Homo sapiens: one gene and its partner. The protein of the gene in region 1 purifies or fractionates together with the protein of each later gene. This does not show direct contact. Each region holds a gene or a part of one and is shown on either strand. Other genes may lie near its edges.

What was found.
Region 2: the proteins of DENND1A (region 1) and LPIN3 purify together in Homo sapiens (affinity purification with mass spectrometry, with the first as the bait; one large-scale study listed by BioGRID). This does not show direct contact.

Annotation. Positions count from the first base shown.
Region 1 is NC_000009.12:123,439,645-123,444,924, forward strand, and holds part of DENND1A (DENN domain-containing protein 1A), read right to left. Parts: intron 848-5,280; coding exon 716-847; intron 546-715; coding exon of another isoform or gene 525-545; exon of another isoform or gene 1-524. UniProt on the Homo sapiens protein: Guanine nucleotide exchange factor (GEF) regulating clathrin-mediated endocytosis through RAB35 activation. Promotes the exchange of GDP to GTP, converting inactive GDP-bound RAB35 into its active GTP-bound form.
Region 2 is NC_000020.11:41,350,805-41,355,219, reverse strand, and holds part of LPIN3 (phosphatidate phosphatase LPIN3), read right to left. Parts: intron 3,400-4,415; coding exon 3,300-3,399; intron 3,161-3,299; coding exon 3,000-3,160; intron 2,883-2,999; coding exon of another isoform or gene 2,821-2,882; exon of another isoform or gene 2,798-2,820; intron 2,615-2,797; coding exon 2,521-2,614; intron 2,423-2,520; coding exon 2,353-2,422; intron 576-2,352; coding exon 483-575; intron 401-482; coding exon 357-400; intron 1-356. UniProt on the Homo sapiens protein: Magnesium-dependent phosphatidate phosphatase enzyme which catalyzes the conversion of phosphatidic acid to diacylglycerol during triglyceride, phosphatidylcholine and phosphatidylethanolamine biosynthesis therefore regulates fatty acid metabolism.

The DNA.
Region 1 (5,280 bases):
GAGCCATTTCTCATAAATCTCTCCAAATGATGACTTTCGCTAACCAAAAGTCAATTCAGGACAGGTAGGAAAGGGTACATAATCTTTTTTAACCAAAAATATAATTACAAGTAGGAAGGGGATACAAAATTTTAGTTTCTATACAGAGTGGAATGTTTTACTTAAGGGAAAAAAAATTAAATAGACAATTTTTCTAATGCTCAGGTAGTTGAAAACAGTTGCTTAAAAAATTGAATCTCTAGAATTGTAGCACGGGTGTTTACTCTCAGAAGCACGACTCCTGATATTGATTTTCAGGAAGTACATTAATAAAGAACTCCTAATTGATTTTTTTTTTAAGACTTCGCTTGTTGCCTTTTATTTGAAGGTGCAAAGAAGGGCCCGGGATGCTAAAGTGTTCTAATGAGATGCTTAGCTAACAGAGGCACCTTAAGCAGAGTGCCTTGGAGTACGGGAGGCAGCAGTGCATTTAATGACTTCATTCAACAGTCCCGCTCATTTATGACCTCAGCCGTGCTGTCTCCTCAAAATTTTTGAAAATTTGCCTGCAAAACATGTTTGCACCAAATAAACATTTAAAGATGTGAAAACCTCCATGGAGCTGCACTGCCAAAGAGAACTGAAATGAAAAACCGTCTGCTGCATGTGCTACTGCTGCTAAAAACAAAAATAAAAAAAAAACAAAACAGACAGGTAGGAGGGCCAGGGTACACACCTGTCCAAAGTGGACTGTGATTGGCCGCCGGTCTTCTCGGAGCTTGGGGTCCTTGGCCTCCACCAGTGGGGACGGTGCAGTCTTTGGCAGCTGCTCTTCTGGGGTGGGGGCGCAGCCATTCTCGGCAATGTCCTGTAGGGAGAAGGATAGTCAGCGGTTGGCACTGGGGTTCTGGCACCCATGTTCCCTCTCACCCCACAACGAAGAGGCCTGCCAGGCGACTCTCTCCGTGACATTCTGAGCCTGACCTCTTGATGAAGATGGAGGGAATGGAGGGCTAACTTGGCTCTTTGACTTTTAAGAACTAGAGAAACCCAAACCATCCATGTGAAGTTATAAAGATAACATCATAATTCACAACAGTGGGGAAAACAATTATTATTGTTCATCCTACTCTCTTACACAGCCATTTTCATTTTTATGTATTTACTTTGTCCACATGCAGACGTTTAAAAATTACTTGCAATCACAGCTCATGCATAATTTTATATCCTGCTTTTCCCCACTATATTATAAGCATTTTCATGTTGTTACAAAGTCATTACAAAAATAATTTTACTGAATGCATATTTCATTGAGCGGATATACAATAATTTAATATACCACGATTCAATATTCTACTACTATTGGGCATTTAGGATTCTAATTTTTTTTTAAACATTCAAAATGCCAGTGATATATACTGCAGTTTTTCTTTCTTTCATATTATCTCTTTTTATGGAAATCCCCAGGAATGAAATTACTAGGACAACAGATATAAACATTTTCAAGGGTTTTTATTCATCCTATCAAATTGCTTTCCAATTTACACCAACTACCAACAATGGATGCATTACCAGTTTCACGATACTTGTGAGCTGTATCATTTTAAAAATGTATCGCTAATTTAATAGGTGAAAAATTTGACTTGTTGCTTTAATTTGCATTACTTTAATTATGAGTATGGACAGTTTTTCCACATTTGTTTACTGATGATGTTGTTGTTTGTGAATAAGATGTGTTTGTTCCTACCCCTTCTTACCCCTCATCTTTCTGGCAGAAAATAAAAAGATTGAAGTCTGACTCAGGACTCTATGACTTGGGAAACATTTAGGGACCAAAGAAATCTTTTTAAATCCAGAAATTTACATTTAATTTGTGCTTCTGATGACTGAAGTCAAATTATCAGGAAAAGAAAAACCACAATGTGCAAAAGGCAGGCCATGGCTCCGGTGGCTGAAGCTGGCAGCTGACTATACACGTGGGTCATTTGGAACATGGATGGGGCCACTCATGCAATAAGGGTCCCGTGTTTTATTCAAGTCAAGGAAGTTGCTTAAACCTTCATTGGAACAAGGCAGAGAATACATGTACAAATAAATATTTAAATAATCATGTTTCTTACCAAATAAAAATAACTCAGCCAGAATTATATAATGAACACAAGTTCCAATTATTTTCATTGCAAAACAAATATACACTTTGATCAACAAAATATATCCCCTTAGTACTCATTAAATTCTGCACATGAGAAACTTGATACTTGGTTGCTCCTAACTTCTCAGCTAAGAGAGAATGGTGGGACATGGAGGAAAGTAATTCCTTATTGAAAAATTATGCATTAAGGAAGAAACATATATACATCTCTAAGACTCAGTTTCCTCATCTGTGAAATGGGCATATGGTAGCATGAAGATTAAAGGAGACAGATAATACAACTGAGTGTCAAGAATATTATTAGCTATTCAGTAAATTATAGGAATTACCATATTACTACCAATTACTACCATTACTACCAATATTTGACCTCACACATCCAGCTGCCTACCAGCTGGCCTCCTTTCCTAAGGAATCAAGGCTGCCTGTAGAGGCCAGACCTGAGAAGTCTGTACTGCTTGGTAAACAACAAAGGGAGATGATGACCTCCTGGCTTTACTGGGAGGGCTTGGATCAGGTGGCCCACGTTTGATCAACCAGTCTCAGCCAGGCTGAGGCTCAGTGATGAAAGAGGCTGTCGATGGCCAAACAGAAACAGCTCTTTTGGAAAGGGGCTGTCCAAAGGTGCTCAGGTCAAGTGGAAAAAGATGGGGAGGGGTTCCATCTGTGCTAGAAAACAACAATGGGCAAAAGGGGCATTTTGGATCCAGGTGAAGATCCTACAAGATAGATATGAGAGAATGAATAAGGTCAAACATGAACAAATTCACTTTTGGTTCAGGTAAAATTTTGTGCGTGGGTGTGTGTGCCTGTTTGTGTTTGGCTGAAAAAAAAATGAAGCTGCAAGGTAATATGGTAAGAAAATCTGGGTATTAATAGAAAACTCTAAGGTAATAGTTATTTAGAAAAAAAGAACAATTCATGTAGTAGTTTTGGAAAAAGCATCTTAGTTCACGCTTATAAGTAAAAATACTATCGTCTAGTTTTGTTTTTCCCATTAACTAGTTGTCTAATCTTTCCAAATCACTCAACCTCTCTGCACCTATTGCCTTATTTTTGCAATGGGAGACTACCACCTGCTTGGCAAACATCAAAGCTACTGGGAGAATGGGTGAAATGAGATAGGAGGAAGCTTTGAAAAATGTCACAGCACTGTGCAAATTGAACCTCAATTTGCAAAACGGAGAGAGCACCTGCTAAAAAGAAGAGTTTCCCTGTGTGGACGGCCTACCCCTGTGCTTTTCCAGACCCTTGACCTTCATTCTCACACTTAGTTCCCACAATGATCACAAGGTAAATGGGATTATCCTGCTTTTATAGGTGAGGAAATAGGGCTCAGAAGGGGTAACTTACCCAAAGCCACATAGTTAGAAGGTGGAATAACCCAGAGCTATGGGAGTCCTGGTGCTTTTATGCCATATCATCCCATAACGACAGCACAAGTGAAGGTATTCTGAATTAAGGAGCTGCTCAAAAAGTGCTCAGATGTAATCTTCTCCTCGGAAGCTCCTGGCTACACTGATCATAGGCTGCCATGCTTAGCACTATCTTATTTTTGTATCTCTATCAACTGTAAGTTCGTTGGGGTCTGGGTTCTCTAACCTAGAGCCTTGAATCTAGCACATGCTGTCAAATAAACCTTTGTAAAGTGGAGTTAAACATTTGGAAGGGAAATGTGTCCAATACACAGATGTACCTGCGTGTCAAAAAGCAGTGCTGCACCTTCATTTATTAGAAGATCCAAAGATGCAAAAGGTTTCTTATAAAGTCCTGTGGTGCAGGCCACCAATTTATTAGCCTCTTTACTATTCCCTCCACCTGAAGAAGGACAACAGCTTCCTCTCAGGATGCCACAGGCAGCACAAGAGGAGGAGCCCACGTCAAGGAAGAAATAAGAGGCTGGGTGTGGAGGCTCACGCCGGTAATCCCAGCACTTTAGGGGGTCGAGGTGGAAGGATCACTTGAGCCCAGGAGTTTGAGACCAGCTTGAGCAACATGGGGAAACCCCATATCTACAAAAAAATATAAAAATTAGCTGGATGCGGCAGTGTATGCCTGAATTCCCAGCTGCTTGGGAGGCTGAAATGGGAGGATCACCAGAGCTTGGGGAGGTTGAGGCTGTAGTGAGCCGTGATCAGGCCACTGCACTCCAGCCTGGGCAACAGAGTGAGACCCTGTCTCAAGAAAAAAATAAGGTGGGGGGCATTCAAATTCTCTGTTCTATCTCCTGGTAGAGATCTTATACGTAGTAGGGAGCTAATAACAGCAACTTTTGATACCCATGATTAAAGAAACTGTGGCCTAAGCACTAACGTAGCTGTCAGCAAAGGGCTTGAGAAAACAGGTACTCTCATACCCTTCTCATGGGAATATAAATTGGCAATTTATATGAAAAACCTAAAAGATGTATATGCCCTTTGGCCCACTGCTCCCATTTTTAGAAATTTATCCTAATGAAATAATATGAATTTCTTCTAAGTCTTACCTATGTGGATATTTGTCTAGAAAAAATTGGAACTCATGTAAGGGTCCAACAATGGGAATATTAAATAATGTATATATGTCCATCAGATAAAATCTGATGTAGTCATTTAAAATAATGACATGTGGGCCTGGTGCAGTAATCCTAGCACTTTGGGAGGCCAAGGTGGGCAGATCGCTTGAGGTCAGGAGTTTGAGACCAGCCTGGCCAACGTGGTGAAACCCCGTCTCTACCAAAAATACAAAAATTAGCCAGGCATGGTGGCGGACGCCTGTAATCCCAGCTATTTGGGAGGCTGAGGCAAGAAAATTGCATGAACCAGGGAGGCAGAGGTTGCAGTGAGCCGAGACTGCGCCAGGCAACAGAGTAAGACTCCATCTCAAAAAATAAAACAAAACAAAATAAAATAAAGACATGGGGAAGAAGTATTTAGTGGTCTGGGAAATGCCCAGGATATAGTACATGAAAATGCAGGTTATAAAATGAGATTATTTTTTGTTCCTCTGATTTGCTGAGTTTTCCTCAATAAACATGAATTTTGTTTGAAACAGGAAAAAACCTGACCTTCTAAATGTCATTTTTAAAAAGCAGAAACAAGAAGCTAGCAGGAGGGTTAAACCTGCTTCTTCCCGAAGGGTCACACAGGAGGAAGACGCCAGACAGAGCT
Region 2 (4,415 bases), on another chromosome or scaffold:
CCAACAGGGTGAAACCCTGTCTCACTAAAAATACAAAAGTAGCCAGGTGTGGTGGCGGGCACCTGTAATCCCAGCTACTCAGGAGGCTGAGGCAGGAAAATCGCTTGAACCCGGGAGGTGGAGGTTGCAGTGAGCCAAGATCGTACCACTGCACTCCAGCCTGGGTGACAGAGCCAGACTCTGTCTCAAAAACAAACAAAAACAACAAAAAAAGAAGTGCTTGGTGCTTGAGGAATGACAAAAAAAAAAACCCACAGCTGGAGACAGGGTGCTGGCTCCTCCCTGCCACCCACCTGCACCCAGGGCCATCTTTCCCAGGCTCCCCCTGCAGAGCCCCAATAGGGGGTCTCACTCACCCCTGCTGCTCCTTGGCTGCAGTCTTCTCCTTCTGGGCACTGCGCTGTGGAAAGAACATCCATTAGTGAATCCCACCTCCCGCCCTGTGCTGGCCCTGGCCCTGGCCCTCGACTGTGACCACCCACCTCCTCGGCCAGGAAGTCCCTGCGTCGCCAGGAAAACCACCATCGCCCACCCTTCCGGGGCATCTTCTCCCTCTCCAGCTTGTCCATGGTGCTCTGTGGGCAGATGAAAGCCATGGCAGTGTTTCCTGCACCACATAAACCTCCTACCTTACGTTGTTCTTGGGACCCTCCACGCATGAGCCCAGAGTCTGAGCCAACCCTAGGGTAAGGTGCTGTCAACATCTGGAGGCCAAGGAAGTGTGCTCACCTCCATCCTGGGATTCCAAGCAATGACTTGGGTGAGCTATACTCAAAAGACCAAGGGCTATTCCTGCCCCCAGCCCCGGTCCCTAGCTCTAACCCAGCCTCAGCCTGGCCTCCAAATCTTGTGGATCCATTCCTTTACTAGAGTAGTTAAAAGCAATGCTTTGGGAGTTTCTCAAGATCTGGTACTCCCTATGCTGTGACCAAGTGGCAGCAGGGAGAACAATCTTTAGCTGGTACTCCCCTCAACCTCCAAGACTGCCCCAGGCAACCTCCTAAGGTTGGTGATCCTATTCCATGAACAACCCCCTTTTCTGTATGTTACCATAACTGTCTGGTTGGGGGCAAGTTGACCTTGTGAAAAAATGCTGATTAGATCTATGCTATTATAGATAACCCCAGGGAGAGGCCAGGCCAAGTCCCATCTGGGGGACACACCAGCATCCTACAGACCCAAGTCAGGAGGATGTGGGCTTGGGCTGGGAATAGCCAGGGGGCCCCCTTGAGCTGGGAACAGGCTGGTGGGGTAGGGGTCTCTCAGGGGCCTCAAGCGGTGGGTCTGTCTGGGTAAGGTGAGGAGATCCAAGCAGGGAAGGGACCCTCTTCCTTCCCACAGACTCTGGGTCCTACCTCAGACCCTGTACCAGCCAGAGGACAAAGCTGTCACCCAATGGCAGTGACAGCTGTCAACATCTGTTAGTGATGCTCTTTGGGCAAGCCAAGAACAATAGGCCATGCCAGGTCAGTGTGGTGCCTTGGATTGCTCCCAGAGGGGCAGGTGCAGGTTGGCACAGGCTGGCACTGCCCAGGAGGGCACCATCCTCCATGAGTAGGGGAAGGTGGCTGGGAAGACCAGGGAAGAGGTTCTGGGAAGAGTAAAGAGGCTAGGCATACCCTCATTCCTTTCCCCCTCTGGGCATCATACATGCTGTTCCCCACCCCTGGCCAGCTCAAGGCCCACCCATCCTTCAATCTCTGCACAGCGGGCACTTGCTTATCAAACCCCCTTGCCATAGGCTCTGCAAGCACTGCACACCCATCCTTCCCAGTGCTCAGGACTGAATTATATTCATCTGGATGAGTCTTTGGTTAACTTCGTCTTCCTTTGAGAGCAGGGATAATTTTGTTTCGTTTATTCATGACTGTCCCCAGCCTAGGCCTGGGACATAGTAGGTACTCAAGAAATGTGTGCAGATAAAGAAAGTAAGCACCCTTCAGCCCAGCCTGGAGGAATAGTCTTCAGGCAAGGTGAAGGGTGCAACTTCCATTTCCCAAACCCCGTATTTCAGATCCAAAGGCTTCCCCATATTTCAGATGCAAAGGCCTCCTGCTAAAGACATGTCCTTGTTTAAGCATCTGTTGGATTTTTCTTCCCCTCTGGTTTGTCCTGAGCTCCTCTGAAGTCAAGTTTAAATACAACAGGATTCAGCCACGGCCAGGAAACCAGGGAAGGGTGAGGCAAGGCTTCAGGGACGTGTGTCGCCTCTCCCAGAGTGAGTCTTGCAGCCAGCTAGCCCCTGGCTCCCAGGCCCATCTCTGCTCACCCTTCACTTCCTTGCTAAGGGTCTCCGTGCCCTGAGTCTATGGCTACCTTCCCCAGCAGGGGCAGTGGTGCTCTAACCATTACCTTGGGCAAGTTTTTCTGGAAGGCTTGCAGGGAGAGGATCATGGGGGCAGCCACAGCCCAGTTATAATGCCTAGAGAGACAGAACAGGGCATCAAGCTGCAGCAGCTGCAGGGTTGTGAAGAGGGAAATGACTCTCCGGCTGCCAGCAGCCCCAGCTCTGGGACTTACTTTCCATTGATTTTCACCACTAGGTTTGGGTCATCCAAAAGTCCGGGGTTTTTGGTGAGGTCCTGGTAAGAGACGCTGTGCTGGTTGAATTTCTCTGGGCACAGAGGCAGAGTGAGGGGTGAGGCTGGCACATCCCATGTGACCCGCTGCCCCAGCCCCCTGGTGCTCCCCACTCTGCTGCTCACCTCCTGTCGGTTGGCTTTGTAACCTGGCAGTGCTCCTCCCTACCTGTGGTTTTTACACCTGTTCCCACCCCAGGATTCACAGGATAACTCACAACTTAGCGTCAAGCATTTTGCTTCATGGGGACTTGGGAAGGTCCAGCCCCTGCTGGCGGAGTGTGGACTGCACAGGGCAGAGAGCTGCAGGGAAGCCCAGCCTCTCACCTCTACTGCCCCACCCTCACAGTCTTCCCTGCCCTCCCCATCCTCTGGGCTCAGCACCAGCCCTCAAAAGGGCTTGGCCATGGTCGAACATACCTAGGGAGATGTCCCGGCTGTCAGCCAGTCCACCACAGAGGGACAGTGCTATTGTATCCACTGTGTCCAGAGTGGGTTCAGGTTCATGTTCAGGGTTGGGGTCCCTCAGGGACTTCTGACTGCTGGGTTCACTCCATCTTCTGGCCCCCAGCCCAGAGTCACTGCAGGCAAAGGGGCCAACAATGACAAGAATACGAGGAGGGCGGGAGATGGGTCCTCCCTCCTCACAGGCCCTTGATAGTGGACCCTTGGCCCCAGGAGCCCAGACCCAAGACACCCTGGCATCCAGAACCCAGGCACCTTTGGGGGAAGTAAAGCGCTGCATTCTCAGAGTCCAGGGAGGGCAAGTCATCCAGGTAGATGTCACTGGGGCCCAGGTGCTGGCTTCTCTTTGGGGAGCCTGAGAGTTGAAGAGAGGATATCTGTAGAGCTGACATGTGCTCAGCAGTGTGGACAGTAAGTGCCCTCTGACTCTGAATTCTCTAAGGCAGTGCTGCCCAGCAGAACCTTCTGCAGTGATACAAATGTCCCATGTCTGCACTGCCTGATATATTAGCTGCTAGCCACATGTGGCTATTGAGCACACTTAAAATGTGATCACCGTGTGACAGAGAAATGGAATTCTAGGCTGGGCGTGGTGGCTCACACCTGTAATCCCAGCACTTTGGGAGGCTGAGGCGGGTGGATCACAAAGTCAGGGGATCGAGACCATCCTGGCCAACATGGTGAAACCCCATTTCTACTAAAAATACAAAAATTAGCTGGGCGTGGTGACATGTGCCTGTAGTCCCAGCTACTCAGGAGGCTGAGGAAGGAGAATCACTTGAACCCGGGAGGCAGAGGTTGCAGTGAGCCGAGGTCGCACCACTGCACTCCAGCCTGGGTGACAGAGCGAGACTCCATCTCAAAAAAAAAAAAAATGGAATTTTATATTTTAATTGCAATTAATTTAATTTAATTTTTAATTTTTATTTATCTGTCACCCAGGCTGGAGTGCAGTGGTGTGATCGCATGATCATAGCTCGCTGCAGCCTTGAACTCCTGGGCTCAAGTGACCCTCCTGCCTCAGCCTCCTCAGTAGTTGGGACTACAGGCACATGCCACCATGCCTGGCTAGTTAAAAAAAAAATTTTTTTTTTTTTGTAGAGATGGGTTCTCACTACATTGCCCAGGCTTGATCTTGAACTCCTCAAGCAATCTTCCCACCTCAGCCTTCCAAAGTGCTGGGATTACAGGCATGAGCCACCATGCTGTCCCTAATTTGATTTTAAATAGCCACATATAGCCAGTGGCTACTGATTTGGACAGCACAGGTCTCGTGCTTTCCTAGCACTTTTAGATAAACCTGAGCTTGTGAGCTGGAGCCATCTGAGTCTGCTCATCTCCCCAACTTCCTATCCCGGCCGTCTTCCATTT